4 linked regions of the Homo sapiens genome follow. The protein of the gene in region 1 interacts with the protein of each later gene in a biochemical or structural test. Each region holds a gene or a part of one and is shown on either strand. Other genes may lie near its edges.

The links. The genes of interacting proteins can lie anywhere in the genome.
Region 2: the proteins of DNMT1 (region 1) and EZH2 form a complex in vitro, tested with the Homo sapiens proteins (one study listed by BioGRID).
Region 3: of the proteins of DNMT1 (region 1) and SIRT1, one has a biochemical effect on the other in vitro, tested with the Homo sapiens proteins (one study listed by BioGRID).
Region 4: the proteins of DNMT1 (region 1) and CUL4B form a complex in vitro, tested with the Homo sapiens proteins (one study listed by BioGRID).

The regions. Positions count from the first base shown.
Region 1 is NC_000019.10:10,153,454-10,156,953, forward strand, and holds part of DNMT1 (DNA (cytosine-5)-methyltransferase 1), read right to left. Parts: intron 3,057-3,500; coding exon 2,938-3,056; intron 2,493-2,937; coding exon 2,400-2,492; intron 1,604-2,399; coding exon 1,452-1,603; intron 1,321-1,451; coding exon 1,133-1,320; intron 1,027-1,132; coding exon 840-1,026; intron 1-839. UniProt on the Homo sapiens protein: Methylates CpG residues. Preferentially methylates hemimethylated DNA. Associates with DNA replication sites in S phase maintaining the methylation pattern in the newly synthesized strand, that is essential for epigenetic inheritance.
Region 2 is NC_000007.14:148,811,292-148,814,791, forward strand, and holds part of EZH2 (histone-lysine N-methyltransferase EZH2), read right to left. Parts: intron 2,847-3,500; coding exon 2,668-2,846; intron 430-2,667; coding exon 334-429; intron 1-333. UniProt on the Homo sapiens protein: Polycomb group (PcG) protein. Catalytic subunit of the PRC2/EED-EZH2 complex, which methylates 'Lys-9' (H3K9me) and 'Lys-27' (H3K27me) of histone H3, leading to transcriptional repression of the affected target gene.
Region 3 is NC_000010.11:67,915,656-67,918,890, reverse strand, and holds the end of SIRT1 (NAD-dependent protein deacetylase sirtuin-1), read right to left. Parts: intron 2,627-3,235; coding exon 2,298-2,626; 3' UTR 501-2,297; downstream 1-500. UniProt on the Homo sapiens protein: NAD-dependent protein deacetylase that links transcriptional regulation directly to intracellular energetics and participates in the coordination of several separated cellular functions such as cell cycle, response to DNA damage, metabolism, apoptosis and autophagy.
Region 4 is NC_000023.11:120,540,463-120,543,962, forward strand, and holds part of CUL4B (cullin-4B), read right to left. Parts: intron 3,348-3,500; coding exon 3,265-3,347; intron 2,572-3,264; coding exon 2,504-2,571; intron 1,259-2,503; coding exon 1,140-1,258; intron 101-1,139; coding exon 1-100.

The DNA of each region.
Region 1 (3,500 bases):
TGAAACCCCATCTCTACTAAAAATACAAAAAAAATTAGCCGGGTATGGTGGCGGGTGCCTATAATCCCAGCCACTCGGGAGGCTGAGGTGGGAGAACTGATTGAACCCGGGAGGCGGAGGTTACGGTGAGCTGAGATGGTGCCACTGCACTCTAGCCTGGGTGACAGAGAGAGACTGTCTCAAAAAAATTAAAAAAAAAAAAAAAAGATTTTAGAAGTTATAAAACATTGGACACACGTGTGTTAACCAAGAAAAATAAAATAAAACCAAAATAACAATGGTGAGGACATGCAGGCTCCTGTTAAGAGATGCCAGCGGGGATCAAAAGCAAAGCCCTGAAGCCAGTCTTTATCCAAAAGAAAGTCAGGTAATAGGTATCAAAATAGTCCTGGTCTTTGGGTCATAGGACTAGGAAGTTAGTTCCTCCTGAGTGAAGTAAACATATATTTTAAAAACTCACAGAAAGGGACGCCTCCTGAGGGCCTCAAATCTAAGCTGGACAAAGTGCCCACTTAGATGTGAATACCCCTTTAGCAGTCCAACAGGGGCCTTCAGACTGTGAGATGCAGGCACAGCAGAGCCACCCAGAAGCCAGGCTCTTCAATTAAGGACAGTGGCATTATCAGCAAAGCACCCAAGCATGCCTCTGTGGACATCTGTCCTATTGACGTTCAATGAAGTATGCAGGGTCCTCCCAGACCACTAACTAATTTCTGTCTCAGGGGTCACATTTGAGCAGCCAGAGTCTCAAGCCACAGAGAGAAAGATGGAGCAGTCCTCAGATCAGGCCAGAGGCTGGGCCACCTTAGGGGAGCGGGAGCACCCACAGGTGAGGTTACCTCACAGACGCCACATCGCCGGCGCTTAAAGGCGTTCTCCTTGTCTTCTCTGTCATCCTTTTCAATTTGCTCTGCGAAGAAAGTATCGAAGATCTGGTAGACCAGCTTGGTGGTGGTGGCTTTCGTGGGTCCCCTGTCCTTCTCCCTGGTAGAATGCCTGATGGTCTGCCGCCTCGCCTGGGCTCGCCTACGGGAGAGGTTCCAGCATCTCAGAGGACTGGGACAGAGGATGTGGGCCATGCTCTACCCTCCCCGGTCTCCAGTCTTCACTCTGGTCCCTGCCGCATCCTTACCTCTGTCCCAGCGTGACCCCAGCCAGCTTGATCAGGTCCCGCATGCAGGGTGTCAGGAAGATGGGCTGCTCATCACTGTCCCCGGCCTCGTCATAACTCTCCACCTGCTCCACCACAAACTGCGCGTGTCGCAGGAGGGAGTCCTCTGTGAAGCGGTTCAAGTTGAGGCCAGAAGGAGGAACCGTGGTCTTGAAAGAGAACAGGTTTCTCTCATGCTTAAGCCAAACTGGCCTAAATCCAACTGAAGAACAGTGTCTGCTGGTTCTGAAGGCAAGTTTCCAGTGGGAATCCCGGATGCTGAGGACCCTCGATCTCTTACCTCGATCTTGTTGATCAGGTCCTCATAGGTCGAGTCGGAATTGCTCTGCAGGAACTCCACCACAATCTTGCTGATGTAGATCTTCTCCTGCATCAGCCCAAATATGGGCGCATACTCGGGACTGGGATCCATCAGAATGTATTCGGCAAATGCTGGGGTGAACAGAGGAGGTGTGGAAAAGGGGCTGGAATCTGATGGCGCCTACAGTGGCCACAGGGCATGGAGGAGTCTACCAAACTCACCCAACAGTCTAAAAGTCATCCCGTACCCAAATGTCAGAAACATAGGGCACAACACATCATAGCTGGCTTGTTCTGAAGAAGCCTGTCTGAGCCAGCCAGAGAGCGAAGACTAGCTGAGTAGGCCTTCATTGAGCTCATCTCTGGTGTTTGGAATTCAGTCTGGGTTTGGGTTGCAAGAATAAGACCTGCTCTTTTTTTTTTTTCAGGGGAGGACAGAGTCTTGCTCCGTCACCCAGGCTGGAGGGCAGTGGCGTGATCTCGGCTCACTGCAACCTCTGTCTGCTGGGTTCACGTGATTCTCCTGCCATAGCCTCCCAAGTAGCTGGGATTACAGGTATGCACCACCATGCGTGGCTAATTTTTGTATTTTTGGTAGAGAGGGGGTTTCACCATGTTGGCCAGGCTAGGCTGGTCTCGAATTCCTGGCCTCAAATGATCCCCCCAACTCGGCCTCCCAAAGTGCTGGGATTACAGGTGTGAGCCACCATATCCGGCCAAGACCTGCTCTTACAACTGGAGAGTCAGTTCCAGAGCCAGTCATAACTAACACAAGAGGCTACCCCAACTGAACCTGCTAAGGTTCCCAGTCACATGGCCTTCTGCAAGCCTGCTGAGAATTCCCACCAGAGCCCCGTCAGCCCCCAGGAAGGAGAACATGAAGGCCCCTTTCAGACCCCGGCCAGCCTATGATGGGCCACACACTTACAGGTGCTGAAGCCGATGAGGGCCTTTTCACCTCCATCAAAGCCAGTGATCCACCATTCATTTATGGGGCCAAGATTTTTGCCATTAACACCACCTAGAGCAGAAAAAGGAAATGGACTAAAGGCTCTGACTCACATCCCAAACCCAGGAGGCGCTCTAAGCGCCCACTCAGCAGACATCCCATCAGCCAGGTCGGGTGCTCCTCAGTCATCACAATGACTTGGCCTACAGCTGCTCCTGGCACAAAGTCTCACACCCTAACTTTAAGAGGCAGCAGCAACTCCAGCTGACTATTGCTTCATAAGTATGTTTTTTATTTATACATATATATAAGTATATATGTATACTATATATATATGCTATATATTTTTTTTTAATAGAGGCAGGCTCTTGCTATGTTGTCCAGGCTCGTCTCAAACTCCCGGGCTCAAGTGATCCTCTGGCCTCAGACCCCCAAAGTGCTAGGATTACAGATGTGAGCCACCCTGCCTGGCTGTTTTTAAAGTGTGCCCCAAACATAATCCCGGACTATTCCTTACCTTCAAGAGATGGGTCATCATCATAGATTGGTTTTGCTGAACCAGAAAAGAAGAGTTCGATATTCTTCTCGATGAGGCCGGTGTCGATGGGACACAGGTGACCGTGCTTACAGTACACACTAGACAGGAAACAAAGCACATGCTTACCAGCTAAGCCGTGAAGGCGGGTCTTCGTGCAGACTTCAGATCAGGCACGAGGCAATGAGAGAATGTACAAGTCTGACACTCTTTTTTTGTTTGTTTTTGAGACAGAGTCTTGCTCTATCCCTCAGGCTGGAGCGCGATGGCATAATCTTGGCTCACTGCAGCCTCCACCTCCCGGGTTCAAGTAATTCTCCTGCCTCAGCCTCCCGAGTAGCTGGGATTACAGGCCTGAACCACCATGCCCGGCTAATTGTTGTATTTTTAGTAGGGACGGGGTTTCACTATGTGTAGCAGGCTGGTCTCAAACTCTTTATCTCCAGTGATCTACCCACCTCAGCCTCCCAAAGTGCTGGGATTACAGGCTGAACCACCATGCCTGGCCCCGACACTCATTTTTTGGTTGCGGGAACACTGGATTA
Region 2 (3,500 bases), on another chromosome or scaffold:
AAGTATGCACCACCACGCCCGGCTAATTTTTGCATTTTTTGTAGCAATGGGGTCTTGCCATGTTGCCCATGCTGGTCTCCAACTCCTGAGCTCAAGCAATCCACCTGCCTCGGCCTCCCAAAGTGCTGGGATTGCAGGAGTCGGCCACCGCGCCCAGCACAATCCAGTTACTAAGCATGCAAATCCACAAACATGCAGAAGTCCAGGCTGAAAAGGCAGTTTATGGCAATTCATTTCCAATCAAACCCACAGACTTACCTAATAAAATCAATCTAAAATAAAGTAAAGTTAGTATATACAATGCCACCTGAATACAGGTTATCAGTGCCTTACCTCTCCACAGTATTCTGAGATGAATTCATTTTTCTGCACAGGATCTTTGATAAAAATCCCCCAGCCTGCCACGTCAGATGGTGCCAGCAATAGATGCTAGAGAATAAAACACAATCACATCATCAAAAAAGGAGGGTGAAAATGGACTGGGGACAAAGTAGACTACAGAATGAAAACAAAAGCTATCACTGTAAATCCTCAGACCTGTTTGTTCTAAGGCAGTAATTGGGCACACAGCTTCAGTCAACGTGAAAGCTGCTGAGAATGGCTATGAACATTATGTTTTCCTTATACAGCAGATAAGAATCTCTGTCTTACAGAAAACCTTTTGGTGGTGTTGGTCCTCTGCAATGACCATCGTTCAGCAAGGTGCTCTAGGCCTGCTGCACTTTTGGCTTCCCTGTATCTTCAGCCCTTGATTTCCTCGAGTAATTCACTTTCAACCTGAATTTAATATAAGGACACCACCAAATCACTCTTCCTCTCCATACCTTTCCCTCTACTTTCCCCAAGTGATTCTATTAATAGTTATTCCATTTTCAGCCCCAGGACACCCCCTGATTCTTCACTGGCGTTGGTTCCCTCTGAAGCCCATAGCAGCTTGGCTTTGGATTTGTTCTTCCACCCCACCTCCTCAGGATAACACAAGAAACTACCGGGAGGTGTTATCATGATCTTGTCAGTCCAGTAGTCTATTTTCAGCAGAAATGCCAAGATGATCATTGCTATAAATTATGTATTTAGGGATGTGTTCCCCAACATATGCCAATTTTTCATCACGGCTCAGTATTATGCTTTCATCCAAAATTTTCTTGTGACCTTTACAAAGGCTTCCTATCTATTCCTATTCTGGACCATCTTACCACTCACCTGTCATGTGAACTTCCCAAATAGCCTTCTGATCAGAAACTAAATTAGCTAAATACTGCTATGCAAATGAAACCCAACTGGTAAAAGGTATCTACATAGTTTAACATTTTTAAGAGTTAAAAAATGTCTTACAAAGAGGACATGTCAGTATGAATAGAATTGCCCACTTTCTGAACAAAGTGAGGAAGGAGTACAATGGTAAGTTGTTTGGGGGGGAAATTGAGATTTTTAGGTCTGAGCAGGTATGCCATCGGAAACGGAACCAGAGTCACTGTGATCCAATGACCTAAATGGACATATAACTGCCTAGAGTAAAATCATCTAAATGTCTAACAGAAAAGAAAAAAGTCAAAGCTAAAAACAAAAAGCCCACCACCCTGCACAACTCTCTGCCATAAACACAGACTTTGGTTCAAAGACACAAACAAAACCAAGAGAACTTCAATGTTTTGCCTGGAGCAGAATTTCTGGTAGAAGGGGACTTGCTGGTAAGAAGTGTGTTCTCAATTATAAATAAATGGTCCAACAACAAAGATATGTCTACTCTACACCCCACATACACACACACACACACACACACACACACACACAGAGCATAAGAGCAGGTTAATGGGAGCCTGGAGGATTTGATCTCCTGCTCCTTTACAAGTCTTGTGACTTTGGGTTTCCTTACCCGTAAAATGGGGGTTAACACTTACTCCTCACTCACAGGGTTAGGAGAATCAATGAACAAATCCACTAAAGCACTCACAACAGTGCCTATTTTTACATGCTTAATAAATGTCAGCTATTATTATAAAAAGAACTGACTGAAGAAAGAACTTATCATCTGCCCTAAAAAAAAAAAAAAGATACGAAATTTCCCAAATACATGCTGCTGAAGTGTCTTTTGCTCAATCATTACTTCCTGGCTGATAGAGTTAACTCACCTACATACAATTCCCCAGACTAAAAATATATAGTTCCTAGCTGGGTTTTTTTCAAGGTTATTAAACAAACAGGAAGTAAGTCTATAAAAACCTGCCATGGGAAATTTCATCTTTTACTCTACATAGCAAGGAATCTATAAATACTCTTTGATGAGAATGAGTCTATATTTTGATAGAAATCACCATTTATTTGCATTAAGGATACTAGATAAACTATTAACTAAAAGACAAATTCAAATAATCTATTAAACAGGTAGAAAAAATACCTCTTATTCCTAAATCTGATACCATGAATGGCTACTTCTCAGAATTTGCTGGTTTCTCCTACTATCAGAGTATGGTGCTCTATATAAAACTGAAGAGACTGCCCAAGGGTGCATTACCCAGAGAAAATTATGAACACTTTCTCATCAGTTGCACCTTTCAAGGATCACTTTTACTTTTTGCCCCAGCTAAATCATCTAAGGCAATCCTGACATTTGCATCACTAAATAGCTAACTACAAACAATCTTCCAGAAGTGACTTGTTGCTCACCTTTTTGGAGCCCCGCTGAATACTGCAGTTCTTGCAGGACACATTTTTACTGTCCCAATGGTCAGCGGCTCCACAAGTAAGACAGAGGTCAGGGTCACACTCTCGGACAGCCAGGTAGCACGGGCACTGCTTGGTGTTGCACTGTGCTTTGCAGCGGCATCCCGGAAAGCGGTTTTGACCTTCAGAGAGAGGTTTGGAGGTTCTTCACTCATCACCGTATGCAAAAACTTGCAGAAAGATACGTGGCAAGGGCTGTACTGGGCATCTCACTGACTCTCAACCCTCACAACCACCTTATTACCCTACTATATAGACAAGGAAATGGAAGTATTAACAGCGAAGTTATAGCTGTTTGCACTGAAAAAGACCACCACTGAGTTGTTTTTCCATTTTTCATTTGTTAAATAGTGTATATATTTAAAGTCGGTGTGAATAAAGGGTCTGGATGGAACAATATCCATGGTCCTTGACCATTCCAATAGCCCCTAGTTCTAAACACTCCCTTAATACCCAAGCTTCATGTGCAGTCTCATTAAACAATTATAAAAATCTACTATGTTTATGCTACATTCCTTTAATCTGAAGACTAAAACCCTCCTAACTCTGACGATTTCTGGTGCCCAAAAATTATTTGGGTAGCTCCTTCTAGATTCCTCTTACAATCTGTGCCAACTTTAATACAACTTAATTTAAATGATCAAAGAAGAAAAAAATAAAATTCAGGTTCCTTTAATACAACTTTGCCTGCCTCACACACACAGACACACAACACCCAGGCGACTGACTGGCCACTGGCACAGGGCCAGGTATGGGGCTCAATAAATACTTGTCAA
Region 3 (3,235 bases), on another chromosome or scaffold:
TCAGTAATACTTTCGCCCTCAAAACCTTTAATGGCTTAAGTAGGTTCTCAGGTCAGCCTCAGAAAGTTGATACCAAATGTGGTCTGCAGTCTTCAGACTTGAAAGACCTAGCATCCCAGAACAGATTTTCAGTTAACCCAGCCTTTGCATCAGATGGATTTTCACTATCCACCACTTCCTGTTCTCTCTCAAATCCCAAACTCCTGGTCCTTTATCATAGGACATGTCACATCCTTCTTAGGCCCTGCCCTGCCTTTTCTCCATGTTTTACTTGCTCAGGCCTCTAGCCTAGAATGGCTGAAATAGTTTTTGAAATGCTTGGTGGTGATGCATCACCTGCTACGATCAGCACCATCAGGGTTTTGCAAGTACTGGTCTGGTGAGACTAATGTAATAAACCAAATGAAGAAATGTAGTATGAGAAAGAAAGCATCTAATACTATAGCATTCGAAGCTGTACAAATTCTGTAAGACTTAAAAATTATATACCTTAAACAATGTAAGTTAACAGAAAAAAGTCAAATGACAATTTTAATAGACTTTAAAACAGTGTACAAGTAAAAAACACTGGTTTTGTATTTCAAAAGTTGAAGGAAGATATCCAGTCATTAAACAGTCTACAAAACATATGCCAGTAAATTACATAAAAGACTATGTACAATATAAAAAGAGCTGAAAACAGTCTTCACTGTAAAAATAATTTAAAACAAACTTTTCAATTTAAAATATCATCTATAGCACACAAACATCATGCAAATGGAAAACTAAATATACTGCATTCTTTAGTGTAGCCAAATAAATTCAGATTGAGACATCTTATAAGTAGGGAAATGGCCATTCAATACGATTTTTTTCTCTGGCAGTAATGGTCCTAGCTGGGTGTTTTATGCATAAAGAACAGCTATATTTCAAACCCTTTTTATTGTAATAAATACTAAAGCAACAGAGGAATACTTTATTAATTTAGGAGTGATGTTCAAAAATGGTCTGAAAAATAAATGCTTACTGTGCAATTTCATAAAGTATGAACTTCTTGAAAGACTAGAAGCTTTTGCAGCTGAGAAAGTTGATCTCTAGTTTTAAGGCAGGCTAAGCTTTTAAATAAAGATAAATTATAAGAACTAGTTTCATTCATTAACTATTCTGCTATTACAAGTTACATCATCATGTTCATCTCCATAATACTAGGGCTAGCAGTTTGGTATTTAACACCAAATCCTCCCAATGGGAGACATGTACTTTCTGGCTGAATTACAATTAACATCTTATTACTTTGGAACTGTATAATCAGGGGCCTGTTGCTCTCCTCATTAATGGAAAACAGCAGTCCAAAATATTACACTCTCCCCAGTAGAAGTACCATTATTATAGATTCAGAAAGGCTTTGCATATTCACATTTTGGCAGTTTAATACTTGTGGAAAAGATCAATGCAAGCTCTACCACAGTGATAGGTATTTAAACAACAATGGCAAATATTTCAAAACTAAGGGGATCCAGGCAGGCACTAATGTTTCTAAAGCAACTGAAACATTTCCAAAGCATTTATTTGTTTTTCAGGTTAGTTTTATGAGCCAATATAGACATTGCTACATGTCCACAGGAAGTACAAAAGCCATCTTCATTTGAACGTAAATACAATAATCCTGAAATTCTTAGCACCAAGTATTACTTTTAAAAGTAAAGACAACCGAGTGCTCTCCCCACATATTGTTGACTTCCTTCTACTCACACTGCATGTCATTTGAGATTTTAAAAAGTTAGCTGCCACAGTTTTGGAAAATGCCAGTGTTTAAAAATAATTGTGTTAAAGAATCAAAAGTTTAGCGTAACAGATTTTGAGTACTTCAAACCATTCAATGTTACAAAGAAAAGTGAAAATACCATTCTTTGGTCTAGATTAGCTGTTCCCTTTACATTAATTTAACATTCCGATGGCTTTTTGAAAACTTTAAAAATGTTGAAACTCACTAGACAAAACAAAAAAAATTATATATACACATATGAATTTATCATACAAATGAACCTTTAAAAGAAAGTTAGTCTTGACCAACAGCTGATTGAAGATACTTAGTACCTTTTTTTTTTTAAAAAAAAAAAAGTTAGTGTTGAGTTTGTACAAGTACAGAAATAATGAAGTTAAAAATTATCCATGAAAAACAATCTATTTTACCAACCTATAAATATTACACCTTTCTGGTTTCCTTGCTCTATCGAGTTCACAAGTAAACATTCATTTTGACATGCTAAAGTTCCTAATGCTGGTGGAACAATTCCTGTACCTGCACAATTATTACACTATGATTTGTTTGATGGATAGTTCATGTCTGTTACTTCCTGTTTCACAGATATAGCTTCATTAATTGCCTCTTGATCATCTCCATCAGTCCCAAATCCAGCTCCTCCAGCTCTCTCTGGAACATCAGGCTCATCTTCTAAGCCATTGTAGAATTCTTCAATTTCACTTTCATCCTCCATGGGTTCTTCTAAACTTGGACTCTGGCATGTCCCACTATCACTGTTACTGCCACAAGAACTAGAGGATAAGACGTCATCTTCAGAGTCTGAATATACCTCAGCGCCATGGAAAATGTAACGATTTGGTGGCAAAAACAGATACTGATTACCTGAAATACAGTAATAAAAATGTTACTTTCAGTTTTCTAACACTAACTCAGTCTGAGCAGTCTGGAATGAAGTGTGGGTTCCAGCTCTGCCTTTATTATAAGTGTCCTTATGAAAGACTACTATTAGTGTTTAAAAACAACTGGGAGGCATGGTGTGCCTGCAGTCCCAGCTACTCAGGAGGCTGAGGCAGGTGGACTGCTTGAGCCCAGGAGTTCAAGGGCCAGCCTAGGCAACAGAGTGAGGCCCTGTCTCTTAAAAATTAATTAATTAAATAAATACAAGCAATACACTTAGTCCTGGGTTCAAATCTTAGTTCTGCCATTTATTGTATCTTTGTAAGTGTACCTCTGTGCCTCAATTTCCTCATCTAGAATATGAAATAAATTTTCACAACCCTATGAAGGAGGGAAGTGTGAAAAATGTAGAAAACCATATTCAATAAAGGTTATTTCACCAATTATTTTAAAAAGATTTGATGAAAATGAAGTATCCAGCCCAGCCTACATTAGATACCCAATTTGTGTTAAGTAGCTTCTCTAAAGTACACAGGCTTTTAAAGCATCTTCATTAACTATTTTAACTTTTTTCTGATTATAAACCTAAAATAT
Region 4 (3,500 bases), on another chromosome or scaffold:
AGATATCAATTATATGGTCAACCTTATCTTTAAAATCCAGCAATTCTTGAACCATGGTTTTATCTTTTTCAGGATTAATTACAATAGTGCTGCCAAATGCCTAAAACAAAAAATTACCACTTTTTACTGTAATCGAATTGTCTACAATGAAAACAATCCCCAAATCATATTTTAAGTGGCATATATATTTAAAGATCTTTAAAAAGTAAGATAAAGCTATTTTTAAGATGGAATCTTGCTATGTTGCCCAGGCTAGTCTGAAACTCCTAGGCTGAAAGGATCCTCCTGCCTCAGCCTCCCAAGTAGCTGGAGTTACAGGCATGTACCACTGCACCTGGCAAAATAAAGCTGATAGTGAAATGAGGACAAAAAAATAAAGTGCTAAATATCCACACTGTTAACCACTCATCTATAATCACAAAAATAGTAAGCAATGATCACTGGGCATATGATATCATAACAGGGTATTATTAGAAGCCTCTGGGATCTTTTCCTTATTTTTAAAGAAGTCAGCTTTCAACTTCCTTAAAATGGCAATCTGGCTTTAGTGTAAGATTGAAGAAAGGAAAGAAATTTGGGGTTCAAAGTCTTTTTCTACATTTACTGCTTTAAGTGGTAGAGACAGAAATTATGTCAGCCATCAATCAGGTTTTATAGCTGATATGCCACACAGCTACCATTCTCAGGTTGACTGTTCTCAAAATTCCCATTACTTTTTAAACAAATTTAAAATTCCCTTAAAAGAACTGGATCAAGTCCGGGTGTGGTGGCTCACGCCTGTAATCCCAGCACTTTGGGAGGCCAAGGCGGGTGGATCATTTGAGTTCAGGAGTTCAAGGCCAGCCTGACCAACATGGTGAAACCCCGTCTCTACTAAAAATACAAAATTAGCCAGGCATGGTGGTGCATGCCTGTAATCCTAGCTACTTGGGAGGCTGAGGCAGGAGAATCACTTGAACCTGGGAGGCAGAGGTTGCAGCGAGCTAAGATCGTGCCACCGCACTCCAGCCTGGGTGACGAGAGCAAAACTCTGTCTCAAAAAAAAAAAAATTGGATCAAACAAGAAATGCTTGCCAATATGCACTCTTGATGTGTAGATAAGCCATAAGAGAGAAAAATCACAGGTAAATTGTTAATACCTTGATATATTCGATCCACTGCTGCAAAAGAACCTGAACTCCACCTCGAACTCTACTGAAGAGCTGATACAGAAGAGACAAATCTTGAATTCGGTTTTCATCAAGGAGGTTATTTAAACCTGTATTTTAAAACATTTTGGCATTAAAATATAGTGAACAAAAAAGTGAACAAGATTATCAGACATTTTAATAAAATTTGAGTTATAATCATTATTGTGATACTGGTTTGAACTATGACTAGTCTGTATGTGAGTTGTAATGTAAGATTTCCTTTGAATTAAACCCAACCATCTTTCTGGGTAAAAACTAAATATAGAGACTTTAGTCGCTATAAAAATAAAAACAGGCCAGGCACGGTGGCTCACACCTGTAATCCCAGCACTTTGGGAGGCTGAGGCAGGAGGATCAATTGAAGCCAGGAGGTCAAGACCAGCCTGGGCACAACAGTAAGACCCCCTCCCCCTCTCTATTTTAATTCAAAAAGTTAAAAAAATTAAAAAGAAAAAGAAAAATGGTTAACTCCATAATGGTTTGTGCCATTTAGCATGATAGATTAGAGGCAAAAACAAACTTATAAAAACTGGCTTACATAAATATACATTATAAATACCTCATATATGTAGTAGCCATATTATGTACATAGTTATATTTCAGAATACTGGATATAGCCTGTGATATATCAAAAGCCATGCATAAATAGGTCAAATTTAAATGAGGCTCTAATAAATATTTGATTTCCAGGATGAAATAACAGTATAACTGCATTAAATTTCTAAATATATAAATTTTTATACAAAAGAAAATATTATTGGGGAGAAAGGTAAGGCTTTTACCTATTTGCGGCATTCTCAAAGTAAAATGTAGGGTATACTCTAAATTCACTTGGGATTAGAAGTGCTTGGTTTGACATGCCATGAACAACAAAAAACCCTCACCGCTTTAGTGTAAAAAGGAATACCTTTCCTTACTGAAAGCTTACATATTAAGTCAAGAATTTCCCACTTTTTTTCTTTTATTTTATTTAAAGAGACGAGAGTCTCACTATGTTGCCCAGGCTGACCTCAAACTCCTGGGCTGAAGCAATCCTCCTGCCTCAGCCTCTCAAGTAGCTGATACTACAGGCACATATCAACCACTGTTTTTTTATTGGTATTTGTGGATCCCTCTCTTCTAGTTCCTGTATCTTTCAGATAAGAAAACTGGCACCTCCAGGAAGTTTACTGTGATTAATAAGGATTGTGTCCATCCTCAGAAATGCAGCCACATGCTATCAAACTTTTAAAAGGGCAACATCTTTAAAAATTCCCTACTAGTTTGCCACTACCATTTAAAAAGCAATCTCTTATTTACAAATTGCCAATTACCTTTCTGAAGAATTGCTGTTAAGTGTTCACCTAGAAGTTGTTTTTCTACAGTAGCAATTAATGACTTCCTACAAGGAAAAAAAAAAAGGTTAGTATTATTGACGTTTGACTTCCAGAAAATGTAAAGCCTCTCCTGAGGGGGGAAAAAAATCAAATAGCTCATTTTATGTTGATTTCAAGATTCCTATCCTATGTATAAATTTATTGGTGCTCAGAGTTACTATACTTTATGCCTAAAAGAAAAAGACATAAAGGAACTGACAGGCAAAAATTTTAAAAAAACACTGCATATTTTAGAATTTGGTTTACATAACGAAATAAATATCTCCAAGACCTTGCTGTAGTCGGCTTTTTCCAAGTTTTGCTACTTTTATTAGGAAGGTAAAGAAGTACTACATACAGAGGCCCCTCGACTGGCAATATTAATACTTAGGAAAGCACAGAAATAGGGGAATCCACTGAATTTTAATTGGCCTGAAGAGTTTAAAGGTCACATCAGCCTCTAGTATTATTTCTAAATTACCTTCTAAACACACACACACACACACACACACACACACACACACACCCCTAATAATCGAATCCTTGGATGAAAACTAATTAACTAGGGAAAAGAATAACTTGAAGTTTGTATTATGAAAACAACTGTTAACACTTCAAATCACACCTGAAAACAGTTACTAACATGTTTAGGATGGCTAAAGTGCTGCAAGTGATTTAACGACAGTTTAAGACTATTAAATTCAGCATGTGGTACTTACTGGGTGGTCTGATCTAAGTAAGTAATAAGTCTGTCTGCTTCTTCTTCTAGACGTTTGTTAACATGATGTAGATATTCAGGAACCTACAAAGATAGTTTTTTACATTATTGTTTTCCTCCCCATAAATCATTCAGAAAATGTCAAGTCCAAAAGATCCTGGAAGTGGCCCTGTCAAATGTGACAGGGTAGAATCATATGTAAAAATTTATAGGTAGAGTTTATGATCCAGAATTCTG